Linked DNA regions of Homo sapiens: region 1 is linked to region 2. Evidence: fine-mapped expression QTL. A gene starts in region 2. The other region holds a variant in brackets. All regions are shown on one strand. Distances are between the middles of the regions.

Region 1 (12,310 bases), 23 kb after region 2:
GCTCGGATTACAAGTGTGAGCCACCATGCCCGGCCTCAAAGACACTTTTTTTGTTGTTGTTGAGACAGAGTCTCGCTCTGTCACCCAGGCTGGAGTGCAATAGCGCGATCTCGGCTCACCACAACGTCTGCCTCCCAGGTTCAAGTGATTCTCCTGCCTCAGTCTCCTGAATAGCTGGGATTACAGGCGCGCGCCACCACACCTGGCTAATTTTTTGTATTTTTAGTAGAGACGGGGTTTCGCTATGTTGGCCAGGCTGGTCTCGAACTCCTAACCTCGTGATCTGCCCATCTCGGCCTCCCAAAGTGCTGGGATTACAGGCGTGAGCCACCACGCCCGGCCGGAGACACTCTTATTAGGAAGAATATTCCAAGGGTTTAGAGATTATTTCCCAGGAGCCAGTCAAGAGCCAGTCCTTTCTTTGGAGTATACACACTATCTAAAACAAAACTTACACTTGGGGCGAGGTGCAGTGGCTCATGCCTGTAATCTCAGCACTTTGCCAAAGTGGGAGTATCACTTGAGGCCAGGAGTTCAAGACCAGCCTGGACAACATAGTGAGACCCTGTATACAAAACATTTTTAAATCTCTGCTTTTCTAAAATGGCTTTTGTTGTAGCTTCAGGGATCCAGCAAATAAGACTCCCCCTGCCTCCATCAATTCTGATCCCTTTCAAGAATAAGACAAATGTGTCAGGCAGTCAGGTGACTAAATATTGCCTTTTTTAAGAATAAAACTGGGGCCAGGTGCAGCAGCTCACACCTGTAATCCCAGACTTTGGGAGGCCGATGCAGGCAGATCACCTGAGGTCAGGAGTTCGAGACCAGTCTGGCCAACATGGTGAAACCCTGTCTCTACTAAAAATACAGAAATTAGCTGGGCATGGTGGTGTGTGCCTGTAATCCCAGCTACTTGGGAGGCTAAGGCAGGAGAATTGCTTGAACCCAGGAGGTGGAGGTTGCAGTGATCCAAGATCGTGCCACTGCACTCCAGCCTGGGTGACGAGTGAAACTCAGTCTCAAAAAAAAAAAAGCAAAAAACTAAAACTGGTATTGGCCAGGGGCAGTGGTTCATGCCTATAATCCCAGCACTTGGGAGGCCCAAGTGGGAGGATGGCTTGAGGCCAGGAGTTTGAAACCAGCCTGGGCAACATAGTGGGGACCCATATCTGAGAAAAATACCAAAATTAGCCAGGTGTGGTGGTGTCTGCCTGTAGTCCCAGCTACTTGGGAGGCTGAGGTGGGAGGATTGCTTGAACCCCTGAGGTCAGGGCAGCAGTGAGCTGTGATCGTGCCACTGAACTCCAGCCTGGGTGTCAAAGTGAGACCCTGTCTCAAAAAAAAAAAATGTTGGTGGGACGGTAAACTAGTTCAACCATTGTGGAAGTCAGTGTGGCGATTCCTCAGGGATCTAGAACTAGAAATACCATTTGACCCAGCCATCCCATTACTGGGTATATACCCAAAGGACTATAAATCATGCTGCTATAAAGACACAGGCACACGTATGTTTATAGCAGCACTATTCACAATAGCAAAGACTTGGAACCAACCTAAATGTCCAACAACGATAGAATGGATTAAGAAAATGTGGCACACATACACCATGGAATACTATGCAGCCATAAAAAATGATGAGTTCATGTCCTTTGTAGGGACATGGATGAAACTGGAAACCATCATTCTCAGCAAACTATCGCAGGGACAAAAAAACAAACACCGCATGTTCTCACTCATAGGTGGGAATTGAACAATGAGAACACATGGACACAGGAAGGGGAACATCACACACCGGGGACTGTTGTGGGGTGGGGGGAGGGGGGAGGGATAGCATTAGGAGATATACCTAATGCTAAATGACGAGTTAATGGGTGCAGCACATCAACATGGCACACGTATACACATGTAACAAACCTGCACGTTGTGCACATGTACCCTAAAACTTAAAGTATAATAATAATAAAACAAACACACACACACACACACACACACACACACAAGCAAACAAAAAAGAATAAAACTGGGATTGCAGAATGTGGCTCTTTTCTGTGAGCTAGTGAGTTTCCTAATTTGGAACCGGGTGACTTTCCTAACCAGTTCACAGGCAGCTCCGGAAAACCTCAGGTCTCCCCCACCGAGTAGACCCCTTTTTCTGAATGGCAAAGACCAGAGCAGGATTTGTGAATTCTGCAGTCAGGCCAGCTCTGGAGGAGAAAGTGAGAGGAGCTAGACTTTTCCCAAATTTAGCAGTCAGATGAGTTGCTTTCTTCTCTTAGGAAGAGCTACAGAGGGATGGTGAGAGCCGCCGGTGGAGCTCTACCCCCATGTCCCCGTCTGCACTCAACCTAACAACCTAAAAATGTTTATTCATTCTCAGGGGGACTTTATAGCATATAGGAGTCAAATCAGTGTACCTAGGGGGATGGAGGCCCAAGTAAGGAAGTTTTCTTAGAGTTTATCTTTTAGTTAAAACTTTGTACCAAAGTATCATATAAATACAGGAAAATGGAAATACTGAGTGTGCAACCTGATGAATTTCCACGAACTCAACAGACCCAGGTCACTGGCACCCAGATCAAGAAATAGGACGTTACCAGCACTTCAGAGGCTGACTTTATACAGCCTTTCAACCATTACATCCCAAAGGCAATCACTGTCTGTGATAGTATAAATTAGCTTTTTGGGTTTTTTTTGTTTTTTGTTTTTTTGTTTTTGAGATGGAGTCTCACTCTGTTGCCCAGGCTGGAGTGCAGTGGCGCGATCTTGGCTCTCTGTAACCTCCGCCTCCCAGATTCAAGCAATTCTTCTGCCTCAGCCTCCTGAGTAGCTGGGATTATAGGCATGCGCCACCACACCTGGCTAATTTTTGTATTTTTAGTAGAGACTGGGTTTCATCATGTTGGCCAGGCTAGTCTCGATCTCCTGACCTCATGATCTGCCTGCCTTGGCCTCCCAAAGTGCTGGAATTACAGGCATGAGCCACCGTGCCCAGCAGCTTTTTGGTTTTTATGCAATCTATTAATGGCATCATATAGTATATATTATTTGGTGTTTGGCTTTTTTGCTCAACATCATTTTTATGAGATTCATTGTGTGTAGTTGTAGATTGTTCATTCTTGTTGCTATAGAACATTCCACCGTGGGAGTACACCAGTATTTATTTATTTATTTATTTATTTTGAGACAAGGTCTCACTCTCAACCAGGTTGGAGTACAGTGGTGCAATCATAGCTCACTGTCACCTCAAATTTTGGGCTCAAGTGATCCTCTTGCTTCAGTCTCCTGAGTAGCTGGGACTACAGGTGTATGCCACCACAACCTGCTAATTATGTTGATTTTTTTGTAGAGACTGGGTCTCCCTGTGTTGCCCAGGGTCTCCCTATATTACCCTTAAACCCCTGGGCTCAAGCCATCCTCCCTCTTTCGCCTCCCAAAGTGCTGGGATTACCAATGTCAGCCACCTTGCCCAGTCACTTTACCATAATTAATCTATCCATTCTACTGCTGATGGACATTTGAGTTGTGTGATGGCAAATTTTATGTGTCTGTGCTTCTCTGGACAACCCAGACTAATACAGGTCGTGTCCAATTCAGAGCTGTTATGAATAGTGTTGCTCTGAACATTCTAATGCATGTTTTGGTGAACAGATGCGAGCATTTCAATAGTCTGTAGACCCAGTAGTGGAAATGCTGACTCAAGGTGTGTGTACATTCTGCTTTAGGAGTTCATCTGCTTTTGTTTTTTGTTTTTTTATTTGTTTGTTTTGAGACAGAGTCTCACTCTGTTGCCTAGGCTGGAGTGCAGTAGCATGATCTCGGCTCACTGCAACCTCCGCCTCCGAAGTTCAAGTGATTCCCCTGCCTCAGCCTCCCGAATAGGTGGGATTACAGGTGAGCATCATCATGCCCAGCTGATTTTTGTATTTTTAAGTAGAGACAGGGTTTCACCATATTGGCCAGGCTGGTCTTGAACTCCTGACCTCAGGTGATCCGCCTGCCTCGGCCTCCCAAAGTGCTGGGATTACAGGCATGCGCCACCATGCCCGGCTCATCTGTTTTGCAAATAGAAATACATCTGGTGCCTACCTCTCCGAATCCAGCTCAGGTGAACCAGGAAGGTGTGCTCCATGCTCTGAATTATAGCACTTTATTTCCCTCCCCTCATTTTCAGCCATTTCCAGGGCTACAGAAAACGGTTTCATTAGGGTGCCAATTACAAATGGGAACCAGGACCTACAAAGGAAAGGAAATGCTTCCAATTAGTAGAGACCAAGATTTGAATGTTCAACCCATTCACTTTCCTTGATGTTTTCTCTTAAATCGGCTGGGAGCAGGCATGGCCCAAACCAAACACTGATTCTCTCTCTTTCTCTCTCTCTAGGAATGTTCTTAATGAGTCGCCAGTTCAATTACCGCCTCTGCCACCGAGGAATTGGCCTTCTCTAGAAGACTCTTGTAAGTATATTTTACTGGTAGCAGTTTCATTTAGGGTAAGATAACGAGTTTATCAAGGTGTCTTTTTTTTTTTTTTTTTTTTTTTTAGATGGAGTCTTGCTCTGTCACCCAGGCTGGAGTGCAATGGCACGATCTCGGCTCACTGCAAGCTCCGCCTCCCGGGTTCATGCCATTCTCCTACCTCAGCCTCCGGAGTAGCTGGGACTACAGGCACCCGCCACCACGCCCAGCTAATTTTTTGTATTTTTAGTAGAGAAGGAGTTTCACCGCGTTAGCCAGGATGGTCTCGATCTCCTGACCTCGTGATCCACCGGCCTCGGCCTCCCAAAGTGCTGGGATTATAAGCGTGAGCCACTTTTTTTTGTTTTTGAGATGGAGTCTCGCTCTGTCCCCCAGGCTGGAGTGCAGTGGCGCGATCTCCACTCACTGCAAGCTCCGCCTCCCAGGTTCACACCATTCTCCCACCTCAGCCTCCTGAGTAGCTGGGACTACAGGTGCCCACCACCACGCCTGGCTAATTTTTTGTATTTTTAGTAGAGACGGGGTTTCACCATGTTAGCCAGGATGGTCTAAATTTCCTGACCTCATGATCTGTCCACCTCGGCCTCCCGAAGTGCTGGGATTACAGGTGTGAGACACCACGCCCGTCCCCTATGAAGGTGTCTTAGATAGCTCAGGCTGCTGTAACAAAAATACCATAGACTGGGGTGCTTACACAACAGAAATTTGTTTTCTCGTTGTTCTGAAGCTGGAAGCCCGAGATGAGGGTGTTGGCCGATTTCTGTGAGGTTTCTGGTGAGGGTTCTCCTCCTGGCTTGCAGACAGCTGCCTTCTTGCTATGTCCCCACAAATGGCCTTTCCTTGGTGCATTCAAGCTGGGGAAGAGCATCAGGGAGTCAGATTTCTGGTGTTTCTTCTTACAAGGACACTGATCCTGTTGGATCAAGGCCTCATCCCTATGGCCACATATAGCCTCACTGGGGGTTAAGGCTTGAACACCTGAATTTTGGGGGGACACAAACATTCAGTCTGTAACACTAGGATTTATAGATGCAGCATCCTGATTATTTTATTTTTGAGGCAGAGTCTTGGTTTCTCACCCAGGCTGGAGTGCAGTGGCATGATTTCAGCTCACTGCAATCTCCACTTCCTAGGTCCAAGCTATTTTCCTGCCTCAGCCTCCTGAGTAACTGGGATTATAGGCGTGCACCACCACACTCAGCTAATTTTTTGTATGTTTAGTAGAGACGGGGTTTCACCATATTGACCAGGCTCGTCTTGAACTCCTGACCTCAAGTGATCCACCCGCCTCGACCTCCCAAGGTGCTGGGATTACAGGCATGAGCCACCACACACAGCCAGCATCCTGTTTAAAAGAGATAGCCAGAGGCCAGGCACAGTGGCATATGCTTGTAATACCAACACTTTGGAAGGCCAGGGCGGGCTGATGACTTGAGCTCAGGAGTCTGAGAACAGCCTGGGCAACATGGCAAAATCCTATCTTTACAAAAATTAGCCAGCGTGATGGTGCACACTTATAGTCCCAGCTACTTGGAAGGCTGAGGTGGGGGGATCGCTTGAGCCTGGGAGGTCTGCAGTGAGCCACGATAGCATCACTGCACCTGGACGACAGAGTGAGACCCTGTCTCAAAAAAAAAAAAAAAAGGGATGGAAAAGCAAAAAGGGGGCAGCATAAGTACCGACGCACCCAATAGCCTGATATAAGGGTGTAAATTCATGTTCAAATCCCAGCTTGGAACATAAACAGAAAGAAACATGGGGTGTCACTAGGCCTTTCACTTCCTATCAGAAAAACTCTGCCTGGTTCCTTTGACTGGAA[T/G]GTTCTTCCTTAAGCTCTTTGCCTCGCTGGATTTTCCTCATCCTTCAGATGTCAGCTCAGAAGTTACCACCTCAAAGAGGCCCTCTCTGTCCACTCAACCTAAAGTAGTTCTGCTAATTTCCTTTATGAAACTGACAGTTATCCAAAATTGTGTTATTTACTTATTGTTCATTTATGTATTATTGATCTCCTCCACTGGAGTATAAACTTCAGGAACACAGGAACCTTTTTTGTCCACCACTATTAATATTTATCCACTACCTAGAACAGGGCGTGAGGCTCAGTCGATACTTAAGAAAAATATTTTGATTGGATAGATAAATAATATTAGCTAACATTTATTGAGCATGCGCTGTGTTTCAGGTCCCACACTAAGCACTTTACAGGTATTAGCTCATTCACTCCTCACAACTCTACAAGCCAGGTACATTTTTTTGTTTGTTTGTTTTTTGAGATGGAGTCTCGGTCTGTCGCCCAGGCTGGAGTGCAGTGGCGCAATCTCGGCTCACTGCAAGCTCCACCTCCCGAGTTCATGCCATTGTCCTGCCTCAGCCTCCTGGGTAGCTGGGACTACAGGTGCCTGCCACCATGCCTGGCTAATTTTTTGTATTTTTAGTAGAGATGGGGTTTCACCATGTTAGCAAGGATGATCTCGATCTCCTGACCTCGTGATCCACCCACCTCAGCCTCCCAAAGTGCTGGGATTACAGGCGTGAGCCACCGCGCCCGGCCCAAGCCAGGTACATTTTTATTCCTCTGTGACAGATGAGGATGCTCAGGCACAGATAAGTGACTTACCTATAGTCACACAGCTAATGACTGCTGGAACGTGAACATGAACTCTGGTCTGTCAAACTGCAGAGTTCTGCAAATAGTGGCATTTCAGGTTTTCTTAGGAAAAGATGAGATTGTGGGAGAGGCAGTTCCAATCCCCATCAAAGATGGAGCTGAGCTGTTTCATCATCCTTCTATTACTTATGGACCTGTTCTTTTTGTTTGTTTTTTGTTTCTTTTTCTTTCTTTCTTTCTTTTTTTTTGAGACAGAGTCTCGCTCTGTTGCCCAGGCTAGAGTGCAATGGTGCAATCTTGGCTCACTGCAACCTCTGCCACCTGGGTTCAAGCAATTCTCCTGTCTCAACCTCCCGAGTTGCTGGGATTATAGGCACCCGCCATCACGCCCAGCTAATTTTTGTATTTTTGTAGAGACAGAGTTTCATCAGGCTGGTCTCGAACTCCCGACCTCAGGTGATCTGCCCACTTCAGCCTCCCAAAGTGCTGGGATTACAGGCATAAGCCACCGCGCCCCAGCCTCCTATGAACCTGTTCTGTACTAATTCCACCTTTTGAAAACAACGCCATCCCCTTTCTTCTTAGAGAGATTTGTACATAAGCAATTACAGAGAGTCCTGGAAAACAGTGTAAGTCACTGGAAGGGATGTGCCAAAAAGGAAATATGATTTGTTTCACTTCCTTGTAAAAATTAGGATCTGTAACACAACAGCACTCATATGACTACTGGGCTCTGGTCTGTTTCTTTTCATCCATTCTTTTTTTTTTTTTGGAGACAGGGTCTTACCATGTTGTCCAGGCTGAAGTGCAGTGGCGTGATCATGGCTCGTTGTAGCCTTAACCTCCTGGGCTCAGGAAATCCTCTTGCCTCAGCCTCCCAATTAGCTGGGACTATAGGCATGCACCACCACATCCGGCTAATTTTTAAATTTTTCTGTAGGGACGAGGGTCTCCCTGTGTTGCCCAAGCTGGTCTGGAACTCCTGGGCTCAAGTGATCCTCCCACCTGGGCCTCCCAGAGTACTGGGACTACAGGTGTGAGCTTCTGCACCTGACCTGGTCTGTTTCTTTTCTAAGCTTTTGCTTCATGGTTTCCATGCAGTGCAGGCTTAGGCAGAAAGATACGGGAGTCAAGATGTCTGACTAATATTTTCCAGTTACTCACTTGGGTGATCCTGAGGCTCTGTCAGGTCTGTGTCTAAATTTCCTCTGTAAAATGGGGATCTGGCCCACTAGAAGTGGGAAGATCACTGAAACGTGAAAATCACGCTGAGCCACTGCCTTCAAAAATATAAAAACACATGACAGCTTTGCATCTAAGGAGCTTTTTGTGTATTCTAGCCCCACAGGAAGCCCCAAGTCAGCCGCCCGCTACATACTCACTGGTAAATAAAGTTAAAAATAAGAAGACTGTTTCCATCCCAAGCTACATTGAGCCTGAAGATGACTATGACGATGTTGAAATCCCTGCAAATACTGAAAAAGCATCATTTTGAAACAGCCATTTCTTCTTTTTGGCAAAACTGAAGAGGGTTCACACAACTTATTTTAAAACAATCAAGAATGGTTGAACTTCAGTAGGTCTCTGGGCCCTGAAAGCCAGTGGTGATTTTATGAAGCTCTATAAGATAAAGCACTTCCCAAACCTTAGATGAAGACACCCCTGCGATCGGATGACTGCAGCCAGAGGAGACACATGGGTGCTCGGCTCTGAGGACTTAGAGGGGTCAGCCTTGTGCTGTTGAGGAAACTTTCCATGGGAAGGACCACGGGGCTCCATGGCTCCCACCTGTGGGAAACTACTCATTTCTTGGCATTCTTTCCCCCTTCATTCCCTTTGGTTTGCATGGTTCTGAGTGATATTAAATCTCAGCATTTGGTTGTGCAGACCCTCCCAGGCTCCCATCCCCAGCAAGGCCCTCACCAAGCATGCTGGTCTTTACCCTCTCACCCCACCCACCTCCTGCACTGTGAGGCTGTGGGTGAGTTACAGCTGAGTGCTCTCGTGCCCAGGTTCCCACACCACATCTCGCGAGTTTGCAAGGGCAGGGAGTACCTTTTGTTCTCGTGAACCCTCCCCACCTAGACACCCTGCAAACCCCAGTGCCTTTATATGATGTAGGCCAAATTGACCATAGAGATTTGAGTTTTCACCTAGGTTTTCTCCCCGTGCTTGCAAGTTGTACTGTAACAATGGACAAAGGACAAAAGTTACCTTCTGATTTACACCTAGAAGCATCATTTTGCAATAGGTGTGTTGGGGGTGCTACAGGAAAAATACATTTCCCCCAGGACAAATCATGGGGAACAGGAAAGAAAAGGGGCATGTAACAATGGCATATACAAGATGAGAGTTCAGGGGGCTTAATATCCCCTGTCCATCATTTTCATCAGTACTTACTCGAGTTCTAGGAAAACAGCCTCAAGCCCCTTCCTTCCAGATCACTGTCCCTGGGCATCTGGGAGGAGGCAGAAGGTCCACTGTGATGTGCTGCAGCCAATGAGATGGGCCAGGGACATGGGCAGATGTCTTGTTAAACAAGTGTCCTAATGGGGTCAACAAGGCCCGAGTCAGCTTTATAGGCTCTTAGACCTCATCAATTCCTTCTAGCTGATCGCCAGAGCCCTAGGACTTGACTCATTCTAACTATACTCACAAGATGCTGGTTTCTAAGTGACCTCTGGGAAATCTGGCAAATGAACAGCCTTGCAGAGAGAGCACTGTGAACCTGGAAAGGCCTGAGAGTGACTCAGATTTCCCTCAAGAGATGGGAAAATGTGTTCCTCCCATTTTCAAGCTTTCTCCCTCAATCAACGCTGGAGCACTGGGGACCTGGGCTTCCTCCCTGGTTCTCTCTTTCCAGACTCTATGAAGGCTTCCACCTTGCTATTAATACCTCCTTGGGAGGCCAAGGTGGGCGGATCACCTGAGGTCGGGAGTTCGAGACCAGCCTGACCAACATGGAGAAACCCCATTTCTACTAAAAATACAAAATTAGTCAGGCATGGTCGCGCATGCCTGTAATCCCAGCTACTTGGGAGGCTGAGGCAGAAGAATCGCTTGAAACTGGGAGGCGGAGGTTGCGGTGAGCCGAGAACATGCCATTGCACTCCAGCCTGGACAACAAGAGTGAAACTCCATCTAAAAATAAATAAATAAATAAATAAATAAACCCTCCTTATGTTAGGCCAGTAGTTATCTAACTATGGCCTTATGGGACTCTGGTATCCCACCAGCCAAAGAGAGGACTCTTCCCAAATTATAGAACAAAAATAAGCCAAAGGATTGGAGTGTTTCAAACACATGCTTTCGTCTTATAAATGTTCTGTAAACCCTCCATGACTATGACAAAAGTTAAAAACAAATGCCAGACAAATGTTGATTCTTCCTTGGTTTCTGGGACGCCACCCTCTCCTGGTTCTCCTCCTGTCTCCGTCTCATTTTGGGGCCACCCACTCTTTCTGAAGCATCTCTTCAATGCTGGTCTTCCTCAGGTTCTGTCCCTGTGTCTCTGCCCATCTGCCTCCAACACTCACGAGTGATCTCACCAATGTCCATGAGCTCAGTGGGCCCCTCCTTTTTTTTTTTTTTGAGACTGAGTCTCATTCTGTCACTCACGCTGGAGTGTAGTGGCACAATCTCAGCTCACTGCAACCTCCCCCTCCCAAGTTCAAGCGATTCTCCTGCCTCAGCCTCCTGAGTAGCTGGGATTACAGGTGTGTGCCAACACGCCTGCACCCGGCTAATTTTCTGTTTGTTTTTAGTAGAGACGGGGTTTCACCATGCTGGCCAGGCTGGTCTTGAACTCCTGACCTCAAGTGATCCGCTTGCCTCAGCCTCCCAAAGTGCTGGGATTACAAGTGTGAGCCACCACGCCCAGCTGCCCCCTCTATTCTGACTTCAGCTGAGCTCTTTCTCCCCAGCTGGGTTGCCTCTAAGACATCTCGTTGTGACTGCCCCACACACCCCCTCAAGTTCAGCAAACACCAAAAGGAACTGATGACCTACCTCCAGTCCCAAATGTCTTGTGCTCTACTATCTTCTTAGTTGCTGAAGTCAGAAACTAGTATCCTTCTCCCCACACTGCTTTGTTTCCAGAGCTCCCCATGTTACTTGTGCCTCCCACGTGGTTCTCCAATGAGTCCACGTCTCTCCGTCACTGTTCTGAGGTCAGACAATTGCCAGCGCTTGCCAGGAGAATATCAACAGCCCCCTGACTGCTCCCCTGCCTCTGGCACCTCACCTGCCGTCCACTTTCTACATGGCACCCAGTGACTTCCTAAAGTGAACATCTGACCACTTCATTCCTTTGCTTAAATCTTCTCTTTGCCCGTTAACCCCAGAAAAAGACCAAACTCTTTAACATGGCTTACAAGATTTGTCAGGATCTGGTCACTGATTATCTTTTGCCAAACTCTTCTCCCCCAACCCCCTTGCAACCTCCACTCTGCCCAAGTTTTTTGCTCCAGCCACTTAAAATGACCTTCACAGGCCGGGCGCAGTGGCTCACACCTGTAATCCCAGCACTTTGGGAGGCCGAGGTGGGTGAATCATGAGGTCAGGAGTTTGAGACCAGCCTAGCCAAGATGGTGAAACCCCGTCTCTACTAAAAATACAAAACGCAGCCGGGTGTGGTGGCACATGCCTGTAATCCCAGCTACTCGGGAGGCTGAGGCAGGAGAATCACCTGAACCTGGGAGGCAGAGGTTGCAGTGAGCCTAGGTTGCACCACTGCACTCTAGCCTGGGTGACAGAGCAAGACTCCATCTCAAAAAAAAAATAATAATAATAAAATAAAATGACCTTCACTATGGTCCCTCTTGCCCTGTGCACAGCGCTATTCCTCTGTATGAAACATTCTTCCCCACCTTTGGATCCTTCCCATTTCATCTTGGCTACCCTTTCCTCATGACCCAACTTGGGTTGGTGCCTCCTGGATGCTCTCCTTTCATAGCATTAGCATGTTATAATTATTGCTTATCTGTCTCTCTCCTCCACTAGACCCAAAGCAACATGAGGGCAGGGAATGTGTCCTTCTTTCCTCTACTGTTTTCCCTGTTCCTAGCACAGTGCCCAGGTACATTGTAGATGCTCAATAAATATGTTGAATAATCAACTGGGTTGAATGAATGAATCAATGAACTCTGAGCTCTCACAGCTCCCATACTTGGCCCTATGGAAATACTTCTCCCTTTGTATTATAATTATTATATATTATAATTATAA
Region 2 (12,310 bases):
AGCTCTGACCGAAAGCAATGTGATTGATAAAGAGGGTGGGCAGTGGGGGGACATTTCCTCAAAAGAAAGGATTGCTATTCACCGAAGAGGGAGTGAAGTCCTGGGAAGGCAAGATAACAGGTGTGCACTCAGCTGTGATAGAGAGGCCGACCAGGCACGCTGTTTGCAGCAAAATGGGCGTTATGCTTTGCCCCTGGAGGCGTGGAAGTGGGGCAAGAGGGTAGAGAAAAAGTTGTTCCAGCCACTACGGATGTGTAACAAGTTACTGCAAATCTTGTTGACTTAAAATAGCCACTTGGTTTGCTCATGATTTTGTGGGCCAGGAATTTAGACAGGACTGAGCCTGGCAGGTCTCACTCAGTGTTTCCCTAGCAGCTGCTCAGATGTCATCTGAAGGCCCCACAGGGCTGGACGTCCAAGATGGCTCACTCACATGGCTGGCATGGGTTGTGTCCAGGTAGCTCAGCTGGGGCTGCCAACCCAGGGCTCTGCATGGCTTCTCCAGCATGGCGGGGTCTCAGAGTAGCTGGACTTCTTATGTGGTAGCTGGCTTCCCCCTCCCACTGAGTGGGAATCTTAAGAGGACGAACTGGAAACTTCATAATTTTTTTTTTCTTTGAGATGGAGTCTCACTCTGTTGCCCAGGCTGGAGTGCAGTGGCCTGATCTCGGCTCACTGAAACCTCCACCCCTGGGTTCAAGCGATTCCCCTGCCTCAGCCTCCCGAGTAGCTGGGATTACAGGTGCCCGCCACAGCGCCCGGCTAATTTTTGTATTTTTAGTAGAGACAGTGTTTCACCATCTTGGCTGTTACACGCCTCCGTATAAGAGACCACCTGAGCAGGCTTAGTGGAGCAACAAGGCTGTTTATTCACTTGGGTGCAAGTGGGCTGAGTCAGAGAAAGGAGTCAGCGAAGGGTGGTGGGAGTGGAACTGGTTCTATAGGTTTGGGGTAGGTAGTGGAAAGTTACAGTTAGGGGCAGTTTTTTTGGGCAGGGGAAGAATGTTACAAGGTGCATAGTCACAAGGTGGGGGAAGTCATAAGGCACGATATCACAAGGTGGATGGATTAGTTGGGGAAGGGCAGGAACATATCACAAGGTGGATGGATTAATTAGGGTAGGGAAGGAACATATCACAAGGTGGATGGATTAGTTAGGGTAGGGCAGGAACATGTCACAGTGGTGGATGGATTAGTTGGGGAAGGGCAGGAACATATCACAAGGTGGATGGATTAGTTAGGGTAGGGAAGGAACATATCACAAGGTGGATGGATTAGTTAGGGTAGGGCAGGAACATGTCACAGTGGTGGATGGATTAGTTAGGGTAGGGCAGGAACATGTCACAAGGTGGATGGATTAGTTAGGGTAGGGCAGGAACATGTCACAAGGTGGATGGATTAGTTGGGGAAGGGCAGGAACAATCACAAGGTGGATGGATTAGTTGGGGAAGGGCAGGAACATATCACAAGGTGGATGGATTAGTTGGGGAAGGGCAGGAACATGTCACAATGGTGGATGGATTAGTTGGGGAAGGGCAGGAACATGTCACAATGGTGGATGGATTAGTTGGGGAAGGGCAGGAACATATCACAAGGTGGATGGATTAGTTAGGGTAGGGCAGGAACATGTCACAGTGGTGGATGGATTAGTTGAGGAAGGGCAGGAACATGCCACAAGGTGGATGGATTAGTTGGGGAAGGGCAGGAACATATCACAAGGTGGATGGATTAGTTAGGGTAGGGCAGGAACATGTCACAGTGGTGGATGGATTAGTTGAGGAAGGGCAGGAACATGCCACAAGGTGGATGGATTAGTTGGGGAAGGGCAGGAACATATCACAAGGTGGATGGATTAGTTAGGGTAGGGAAGGAACATATCACAAGGTGGATGGATTAGTTGGGGAAGGGCAGGAACATATCACAGTGGTGGATGGATTAGTTGGGGAAGGGCAGGAACATATCACAAGGTGGATGGATTAGTTGGGGAAGGGCAGGAACATATCACAGTGGTGGATGGATTAGTTGGGGGAAGGGCAGGAACATATCACAAGGTGGATGGATTAGTTAGGGTAGGGCAGGAACATATCACAGTGGTGGATGGATTAGTTGGGGAAGGGCAGGAACAATCACAAGGTGGATGGATTAGTTGGGGAAGGGCAGGAACATATCACAAGGTGGATGGATTAGTTGGGGAAGGGCAGGAACATGTCACAATGGTGGATGGATTAGTTGGGGAAGGGCAGGAACATGTCACAATGGTGGATGGATTAGTTGGGGAAGGGCAGGAACATATCACAAGGTGGATGGATTAGTTGGGGAAGGGCAGGAACATATCACAAGGTGGATGGATTAGTTGGGGAAGGGCAGGAACATATCACAAGGTGGACTGTTGCAAGGTCGGTTAATCATTAAGGCAGGAACTAGCTGTTCCGTCTTCTTTAGTGGTTCTCCTGTTGCTCCAGGCTTTGTGACTCCAGGAGGCCTGTAACGTGTGGGTCACAGGGGTCACAATGGCTCGACCATGGGGTAGCCCATTCAGGGGACCTTCCACTGGCCAGGTTGGTCTTGAACTCGTGACCTCATGATCCACCCGCCTCGGCCTCCCAAAGTGCTGGAATTACAGGCGTGAGCCACCGCGTCCCGCCCAAAGCTGCATAATTTTTTATCCTCAAAAGTTAAGCAGCTTTCCTTCCCCTACAGTCAGTGTTATAAGTGAGTCACTAACGTCAGCCCACTTTTGAGTAGAGGGGACATAGATTCCCACAGCTCAATGGGAGGAGTGTCAAAAAAATGTATGAGCATATTTTAAAACCATTGCAAAGTATGTCATGGGGAGAGTGTCCAGAGGAGAGATGACTGAGTTGGGTTAAATTGCCAGGCCAGGCACAGTGGCTCATGTCTGTAATCCCAGCATTTCGGGAGGCCGAGGCGGTAAAATCTCTTGAGGCCAGGAGTTTGAGACCAGCTTGGGAAACATAGCGAGACCCCCATCTCTACAAAAAATTTAAAAATTAGCCAGGTGTGGTGGTGCATGCCTATGGTCCCAGCTACTTGGGAGGCTTAGGTGAGAGGATCGCTTGAGCCCAGGAGTTCGAGGCTGCGTTGGGCCACGACTGCACCACTGCACTCCAGCCTGAGTGACAGGGTGAGACCGTCTCAAAAATAAATGAATAAATAAATAAATTGCCAGGCCACAGAAAATGCTTAAGTATTACAACTGGTAAATCATAAGAGTTATGGTTGATGTGGCTCCCAGTCAGTTGAGTGGTAATGGGGCTGGTGGACTCATGTTTGGGAACGAAGAAGAGAGAAGGTTCAAGAGTGAGAACTGAAATCACTGCTGTCTCTCCATCCCTGTCCCAGGGGAAAATCCATTGCCCAGCCATTACCAGCTCCTTGAGACTGCCTGCATTTCTTGGCTCGAGACCCCTTCTTCGGATCTCCCCAGTCTCTTGCCTCTGCCAGCACATCCCCTGCCACTGACCCTGACTCTCCTGTATCCCTCTCAGAAGGATCTTGTGATTACATGGGGTCCATGTCGATAATCCTGCATGACTTCCCCACTTCAAAATCCTTAGTCATATCTGCAAAATCCCTTTCACCATCTAAAATAACATACTCATGGGTTCTGGGGTTTAGGGGCCCAATGCTCCTAGTACCTTTCATGGGAATCTTTACCTCCAGAAATGGGGAGAAGTGGGCAGGGACTCCCTTCATACACAAGACACGGCTGCCTCCTGCCACAACCCCAAATACTTATACACTTGCCTTTTTACATCTGAGCTGGAACGACCCCACCTCAATGTCATGGGGCCAGGGTGGGAGACAGAGGAGCTACAACATCTGCTTGGCTATTGTTAGGGACAAACAAAGCAGCCACGGTTGCTTAGTGATGACTTCTGGTTCCACCTGAGTGCTTTGGCCACCCATATTGCTCTCAGAGCTCTTTAAAGATGAGTTATTGTGCCCGGAGTGGTGGCTGATGCCTGTAATCCCAGGACTTTGGGAGGCTGAAGTGGACAGATCACCTGATGTTAGGAGTTCAAGACCAGCCACCTAACCAACATGGAGAAACCCCATCTCTACTAAAAGTACGAAATTAGCAGGGCATGGTGGCGCATGCCTGTAATCCCAGCTACTCTGGAGGCTGAGGCAGGAGAATTGCTTGAACCCAGGAGGTGGAGGTTGCAGTGAGCCAAGATCGCGCCATTGCACTCCAGTCTGGGCAATAAGGGCGAAACTCTGTCTCAAAAACAAAAACAAAAACAAACAAAAACCCCCACCTTTTTAAAAACTGCAATAAAATCTATTAATGTTCTAATTATATGTTGTATCTTATGATTTCTCTTTCTTCAGTTTTTTTCTCATGATGGGGATTAATTGACACTTGTGAGTGGCACAAAGAATAACACCTCATTTTACACATGACTTAGATGACTGAGTGAGAAGAAACAAAACGGCAGAAGCTGGGTGCCACCCGGATGTTGACAAAAAGGTTGAGTCATGAGATGAAGGGTGGACTGGAATCCCTTCTGAGTGTCCTCTAGCCTGATGGTCTCTGTAGCTTTAAGAGGTGAACATCTTGTGTGTCCAGCCATCCCTACGGGGAGGTCAGAGGGACCAGAATCCTGAGGAGAAAGCACCACAGGTGACCACTAGAGGGTGCCCTTCATTCTCCTTGACACCCTCTGGTCCAGCCGCTAATCTAGGGCCCTCAGGGACCTCTTTAGTTGCCCAGACCAGCAGGTGGCATTTCAGATGTGCAGAAAGAACACAACCGCCCCAACTTCCTGCCCTCCTCTTGTGGTGGAAAGACAAATGGTGGAGTCGGGGAAGAATGTAGATAGCAAGGAAGTGGGTAGATCCAGATGCCGTGGTGTGTGTCCCTAAACTTTGCTCTCAAGCCTCTGACTGCCCAACACATTCACTCTTGATCAGCCATGCAACCATCTCTTTCTCTCCAAATACTATGGCTGCTTTGTGTCTGTCCACATTCTGTCCATTTGGTGAGCTCCTACACATCCTTCAAGGCCCAGTTCAAATGCTACCACTCAGACCCTTTCTTCTCTCCCACTTTTGTGCTTCCACAGCACTAGCATTCATCACTTTGCATAGTAATAACTTATGTGCCTTCTGTCCTGTAGAACATGTGCCATGTGCTCTACCCATGAATGACTTGCCCAGTTCTGAGTCTCTACTTGTTGAGCACAGGGTCTGGCACAAATTGAAGGTCATTGTATTTAGCCTGCATCATATTATGGCTTCAACTTCCTCCTACACTTTGCGGGACTTTCTTGAAGGCAGATGGCAAAATCCCTGGAGCACTTTCATATTTGTCAATTGAATTCTTTCATTTTACAACAAGGAAACTGAGGCTCAGAGAAGGGAAGGATTCACAAAGAAAGTTTTGTCAAACCGGGCCTGGAATTCTGATCACCTGACACCTCAGGCTTGAACTTGCTGTGCAAAAGGCATTGTTAGAAATAGTAGGGCTACAGAGTTTACTATATCACAGCTGAACTGAGGTCCTTAAAGGTTAGCAAAATAATTTATTGAGTAATTTATTGAATGAATGAATGAAACACAAACCAAGAAGTCACAGCTTTGTTAGCCTAGGATGAGCTCTATCCACAGAAGCATTTATTCACCCCTCAGAAGAGAATTTTTTTTTTTTTTTTTTTTGAGACGGAGTGTTGCTCTGTCACCCCGGCTGGAGTGCAGTGGCTCGATCTCGGCTCACTGCAACCTCCGCCTCCCAGGTTCAAGCGATTCTTCTGCCTCAGCCTCCCAAGTAGCTGGGACTACAGGCACCTGCCACCATGCCTGGCTAATTTTTGTATTTTTAGTAGAGACGGGATTTCACCATGTTGGCCAGGCTGGTCTCAAACGCCTGACCTCATGATCCGCCTGCCTTGGCCTCCCAAAGTGCTGGGATTTCAGGCGTGAGCCACTGTGCCCGGCCTAGAAGAAAATTTTAAATTGGCTTTTAGGAAGGTTTTTTAGCAGCTAAACTTTGGATGAGCCTAAGAAGAAAGAGTTCAGGCCTTGGCCAGGTGCAGTGGCTCAACTCTGTAATCCCAGCACTTTGGGAGGCCGAGGCAGGTGGATCACTTGAGGTCAGGAGTTCGAGACCAGCCTGGCCAACATGGTGAAACCCTGTCTCTACTAAAAATACAAAGATTAGCCGGATGCGGTGGCACACACCTGTAGTCCCAGCTACTTGGGAGGCTGAGGCAGGAGAATTGCTTGAACCTGGGAGTCGGAGGTTGCAGTGTGCTGAGATTGAGCCACTGCACTCCAGCCTGGCGACAGAGTGAGACTGCATCTCAAAAAAAAAAAAAAAAAAGAAAGAAAGAAAGAAAAAGAAAAAAGAAATTAGTAAACACTGCAAATCAGGAATCTTCTGAGCCAGATGTTTTGTTTTGTTTGTTTGAGATAGAGTCTTGCTCTGTTGCCCAGGCTGGAGCGCAATGGTGTGATCTTGGCTCACTGCAACCTCCACCTCGCGGGTCCAAGCAATTCTCCCGCCTCAGCCTCCTGAGTAGCTGGGACTACCGGTTCACACCAAAATGCCCAGCTAATTTTTGTATTTTTAGTAGAGATGGGGTTTCACCATGTTGGCCAGGCTGGTCTCGAACTACTGACTTCAGGTGATCCACCCGCCTTGGCCTCCCAAAGTGCTGGGATTACAGGTGTGAGCCACCGCACCCAGCCAGAGCCCGGTGTTTGTTAAATTTACCAGACATATATCAGACATTATCAGATATTTATCAGACATATCTGGTTATCATTATTACTGAAATGGATAACAACTCATTCGCTCTGGGCAAATACAATGCACATCCGTTTGCCTATTTTTACTAATGTGACTGCTCATTTGAGTCAGAACCAGCCAATTCAACAAAATGGCTAATTGGTTTCCCCACTCCAACCCCCATGGTCAGAGGCCGTGGGCCTCGCTGGGAGTTCTGTCTCACAGTATTGCACGAGGGGACCCAACTCAGTCAAAATGCTCCACTGGCCACATTTCTCAAGGTCGCCACTCACACGCCTTTAGAAACAGGAAGCCTGTCCCTTGCCTCCTCCAAGCAGAAGATGTCTCAGCAGTTCCAAGGTGCACAGGAGCTTTCAAGAGTCACCTTCATGGTGAGATGGTGAGTTTGTCACACATGAGCTGGTTTCTTACCTGGATCTGTCTCTGCATGGGAGCTGGCGTCCTGTCGCTCTTCTTGAGACTGAGGTTGCCACATCCAGGAATGCTCACGGCAAACTCGTCTGTGGGGACACCAAACCCACCCCCACTGCCAAGTCTCCACCCTGGCCCCTGGCCCCTGCCAGGACCCCCTACCACACCATGAGGGTCCTCTGGTAGGCCTTGCGGGAGCGACACGGGGCAGTGAGAAGATTCTGGCTTCTGGACAGCCGTGGGTCATGAGCTTCCCTGGAAAAGGGATGGTTGCCTAGAGATGACGCCAGGGTCTCTGCCCCGTGGGCTGACTAGAAAGGGGAAGTGGTCAGGATGGGGCTCACTGTCTCTAGCAGTGGGTGAAGGCCTGTGAGTGAGGAATGCCTCTCACCAGCTGTGCCTGAGCTGCAGCACTCCAGCCACTGCTGTCTCCTTAGCTGCTCACATATGGATACTTTCACAGTTCAGGTAAGCATCTCAGCTTTCCAAGGGACAGTTTCCTGCTCTCTTCACAGCAGACATCTGCCAGCGCTGGCATCAGGGCGTGTCCCTGGGAGCCACCGATCAGCACTGGGCCAGGGGATTGCAGCCTGGGGCCCTGGTACGACTGCTGTGTAGGGTTGGAGAAAAACTTGCATTGAAGGATCTGCTCTACTGGTAACTGGCTGAGTGACCTGAGGCATCACTTCACCTCTCTGGGCCTTTTCCTCATGTGTATGTCAGGGGCGATGAAGAAGTCTACCTCTTGGATTGAAATGAGATAATGACCGGGAGTGAGAGGTCTCAACTGTAACGAGTTACTCTCACTTTCTGGATGCCGATGGTGTGTTTTGGGACTTGTTATGTGAGAAGACTGTCATGGTGCTATGCTGGAGGTGGGGGTGGGAGCGAGGCACTGACTGTGTCAATTTATTTATTTTTATTTTATTTTGAGATGGAGTTTCGCTCTTGTCGCCCAGGCTGGAGTGCAGTGACGTGATCTCGGCTCACTGCAACCACCGCCTCCCGGGTTCAAGCGATTCTCCTGCCTCAGCCTCCTGAGTAGCTGGGATTACAGGCACCCGCCACCACACCTGGCTAATTTCTGTATTTTTAGTAGAGACGGAGTTTCACCATGTTGGCCAGGCTGCTCTCGAACTCCTGACCTCAGGTGATCCGCCCGCCTCGGCCTCCCAAAGTGCTGGGATTACCGTAGCATGAATTTAGGCTACGTCTTGGGGCTCTTGGATGAAAGACCTGGATCACCTCCAGTCTTGGTACCTTTGTCATTGCATCTCTGGCTTTCAGTAGTTCATTAGGCACCTTCCCTTCCAGAGGCCTCGAGATCAAAGTGTGTTGGGCTGGCGTGAGTTCTCGGTGTAGCCATCTGCTTTTGCCCTCTGGAAAATTATTTTGAGAAGAGATCTGGGTTTGGCTTTGCCATATCCACTCCCACTGCCTGGTGTGTCCACTTGTCCCTGAGGTCTTGGCCATGAAGCAATGTGGAGCACAGGCTTCACTCTGCTTCAGTGGTAAATAACTACTGAGAGGCAGGCGGGGCATGGTGGCTCACGCCTCTAATCCCAGCACTTTGGGAGGCCAAGGTGGGCAGATCACAAGGTCAAGAGATCAAGACCAGCCTGGCCAACATGGTGAAACCCTGTCTCTACTACAAATACAAAAATTAGCTGGGCATGGTGGTGGGCGCCTATAGCCCCAGCTACTCGGGAAGCTGAGGCAGGAGAATCGTTTGAGCCCGGGAGGTGGAGGTTGCAGTGAGCCAAGATTATGTCACTGCACTCCAGCCTGGTGACAGAGCAAGACTCCATCTCAAAAACAAACAAACAAACTACTGAGAGGCTTAAAGCAAGGAAGGGACAGGGTCACACTGGTATTTGGCAGCCAGTGGGGAGCCCAGTGGGGGCTAGGGGCCAGCGAAAATGCAATGGTCCAGGTACAGAGATGAGGACTTGGACTACATTTGGAGGCTGATGGGCTGAAGCGGGGTGGGGATGGGGCCATGGGAGAAAGAGGAATGAGGCAAGGTTTCCGGTCTTTTCCAGAAGTGAAAGTATAGAGAAGGGAAGAAGAGAGGCTGGACTCCTTTTAATGACCCTGCCGTGCACTTCCCCATGCACACTTGGGTTTTAAGTTGCCAGTGACTATCCACATGGCCATTTCTGGTGCTGACATCAGTGAGAAGGACAAGTGGAGCGAGGCTCAGTGGCTCACGCCTGTAATCCCAGCACTTTGGGAGGCCGAGGCAGGTGGATCACTTGAGGTCAGGAGTTTGAGACCAGCCAGGCCAACATGGCAAAACCCCATCTCTACTAAAAATACACAAAAATTAGCCGGGTATGGTGGTGCGTGTCGGTAATCCCAGCTACTCAGGAGGCTGACACAGGAGAATAGCTTGAACCAGGAAGTAGAGGTTGCAGTGAGCTGAGATTGCACCAGTGGAGTCTAGCCTGGGTGACAGAGCAAGACGCCATCTCAAAAAAAAAAAAAGAAGAAGAACGAGTGGGAACAAGGCCTCACTTAGCATGAACAGCAACAGTCGGGGAATTAGAGGTGAACTGGGGCAAGAACTGCTCATGCCAACCGGCCTAAATGTTCTCTACAGCCTCTCAGACCCTCGAGATCTAGACTGAGATTAGTTCGAACCCTCATTCCAGGCCTGCCGAAGTCCAAAGCCCTCCCCAGGACTTCTGTGGACTCCCGAGGAGCCCACCTCTTTTTCCATGGTCAGCAATGGGCCTGCAGCCTCTGTGGGTAAAACTGTTTACACTGCGCTGTTTACACTGCACTGTTTGCACTGTTTATACTGTTTATACTGCACTGTTTATACTGCACTGTTTACACTGCACTGTTTATATTCCACCCCTTTCTTAGTCCCCCACACCCCTAGAACAAATCTGCTCACAAAAGAATTGGCAGATGCAGCAGACTTTACCAAAGACTCAGCGGGGGACCACCAGAGGGGCTTGTAACGCATCAGCGCAAACAACTGCACACAGAACATAACACGGCGCTGCTCTGAAAATGTCTTTGCCAGCCCATCCCTGAGCATTTTCTATCAGCTCCTCCTCTTGATACCAAATGAGGCCCATTCTGCTCATCGCACAGTAAGCCAATCACTGAGGTGACCAGTTTTTTTTTTTTGTTTTTGAGACGGAGTCTCGCTCTGTCGCCCAGGCTGGAGTGCAGTGGCGCAATCTCGGCTCACTGCAAGCTCCGCCTCCCGGGTTCACGCCATTCTCCTGCCTCAGCCTCCCGAGTAGCTGGGACTACAGGCGCCTGCCACCATGCCTGGCTAATTTTTTGTATTTTTTAAGTAGAGACAGGGTTTCATTGTGTTAGCCAGGATGGTCTTGATCTCCTGACCTCGTGATCCGCCCGCCTCAGCCTCCCAAAGTGCTGGGATTACAGGCGTGAGCCACCGCGTCCCGCCAAGATGACCAGTTTTGCAGCACAGAATGCATTTATTCATGAGGCAGCCAAGTGAGGAGATGGGAAAACAGGTCTCAAACCCACTTCCTCGAAGATGGGGTTTAGAGACGTTTATGGGACAAAGAAGCAGGTGGCCTAAGGTGTGGGGAAGGTGATTGGAGGGAAAAGTAGGACATCGGCAATCTGTGCAAGCCTAGTCAAGCTTCATCGTTCTTCATAGGATGCAGGTTCACAAAATGGTGGCATTAGCATGATGGAAGATGGAGTTTTTGGCGCTCTGACATCAAACGTCACCTACTGGACACTCACACAGACCAAGTTGAAGGATTGATGGTCATAAGTGGCTTGAACTGGATAAGAGCTGACCCCAAGTTCCTGAAAAACAACTTTTTTTCTTTTCTTTTTTTTTTTTTGAGATGGAGTTTCACTCTCGTCACTCAGGCTGGAGTGCAATGGCGTGATCCTGGAGGCTCACTGCAACCTCTACCTCCTGGGTTCAAATGATTCTCCCTCAGCCTTCCGAGTGGCTGGGATTACAGGCGCCTGCCACCACACCAGGCTAATTTCTGTATTTTTAGTAGAGACGGGGTTTCACCATCTTGGCCAGGCTGGTCTCGAACTCCTGACTTCAGGTGATCTGCCTACCTTGGCCTCCCAAAGTGCTGGGATTACAGGCGTGAGCCACCGTGCCCAGCCCTTGAAAAACAACTTAAACAACCATTACTATGATGACCTATATGTCAGAGATGTTATCCAGCAGGAAGCTAGTGGAAGTCCAGTTAAATATTGCTTAGCTACATGACTTTTAGCTCTATAGGCTTTTTTCTTTTTTAAAGACAGGGTCTCACTCTATAACCCAGGCTAGAGTGCACTGATGGTAATCACAGCTCACTGCAGCCTCAATCTCCTAGAGTCAAGCCATCCTCCCACCTCAGCCTCCTGAGTATCTGGGACTACAGGCACATGCCGCCACATCTGGTTTTGTTTTGTTTTGTTTTGTTTTGTTTTTATTTTCAGTAGAGAGAAAGTCTCGCTGTGTTGCCTAGGCTGGTCTTGAACTCCTGGGCTCAAGTGATCCTCCAGCCTCGGCCTCCCAAAGTGCTGGGATTACAAGTGTGAGCCACTGCCCCCAGTAGCTATATAGGTTTTAAGATCAACTAGAAGCAAGTGACTAAAATCAAGTAAGGTAGGTTAAGTTCTGCAGGCCTAATCTAGCCCTCGGGTTCACTCCCACCTTTGCACCATCCTGCTGGCTTCCCTTTTCATCTTTCCATCCCTTCTTCTCATCACCTTCCCTCCCAGAACTCCAAATTCTCCCCTTCTATAACCCAGAGGAATTCAACATTCCCCAGTTCCTACCAGCAAACTTCATTCCTAACCCAGCCAGCTTTGCAGATCTGCAGATCCTCTGCAGGGAGAATAGGGGACTCTCCTGGTCGGTAGCTGCCCTTCTTAGAAGACACTTGCTATTGTAAATAGAACTTGGTTGGTTTGCCCTTAATAATGCCTCATGCTTGGTGATCTTCTGCACACAGAGCTCTTTTGCATGCAACATCTCTTGGAAGCTTTTCAGAAGCCTGCAAGGAGACGTTAAGCATCTTATTCCAAGTGCAACAGCTAAGTGGGAACAGGAAACCTATTCCCTCTGGCCAGGTGCAGTGGCTCATGCCTGTAATCCTGGTACTTTGGGAGGCT

Evidence for each region.
Region 1: its variant is fine-mapped to the expression of SCIMP in testis (GTEx, PIP 0.94).

What each region holds. Positions count from the first base shown.
Region 1 is chr17:5,207,070-5,219,379 of GRCh38, reverse strand. SCIMP (SLP adaptor and CSK interacting membrane protein) reads left to right here. Exons shown (of 5, transcript NM_207103.3): 4 at 4,382-4,455; 5 at 8,425-10,460. The coding sequence ends at 8,579. It overlaps ZNF594-DT (ZNF594 divergent transcript), which reads right to left. Exons shown (of 6, transcript NR_152840.1): 2 at 9,485-9,630; 3 at 5,171-5,330; 4 at 4,087-4,233. Among named protein-coding and RNA genes, the nearest start is that of ZNF594-DT, 21 kb to the right of the region's middle. RefSeq lists a silencer at 10,772-10,951. The variant T/G (reference allele first, on the strand shown) is at 6,296.
Region 2 is chr17:5,230,079-5,242,388 of GRCh38, reverse strand. SCIMP (SLP adaptor and CSK interacting membrane protein) reads left to right here and starts at 7,529. Exons shown (of 5, transcript NM_207103.3): 1 at 7,529-7,654. The coding sequence starts at 7,634. It overlaps ZNF594-DT (ZNF594 divergent transcript), which reads right to left. Exons shown (of 6, transcript NR_152840.1): 6 at 6,386-7,275. RefSeq lists enhancers at 379-608, 4,843-5,142, 7,088-7,287.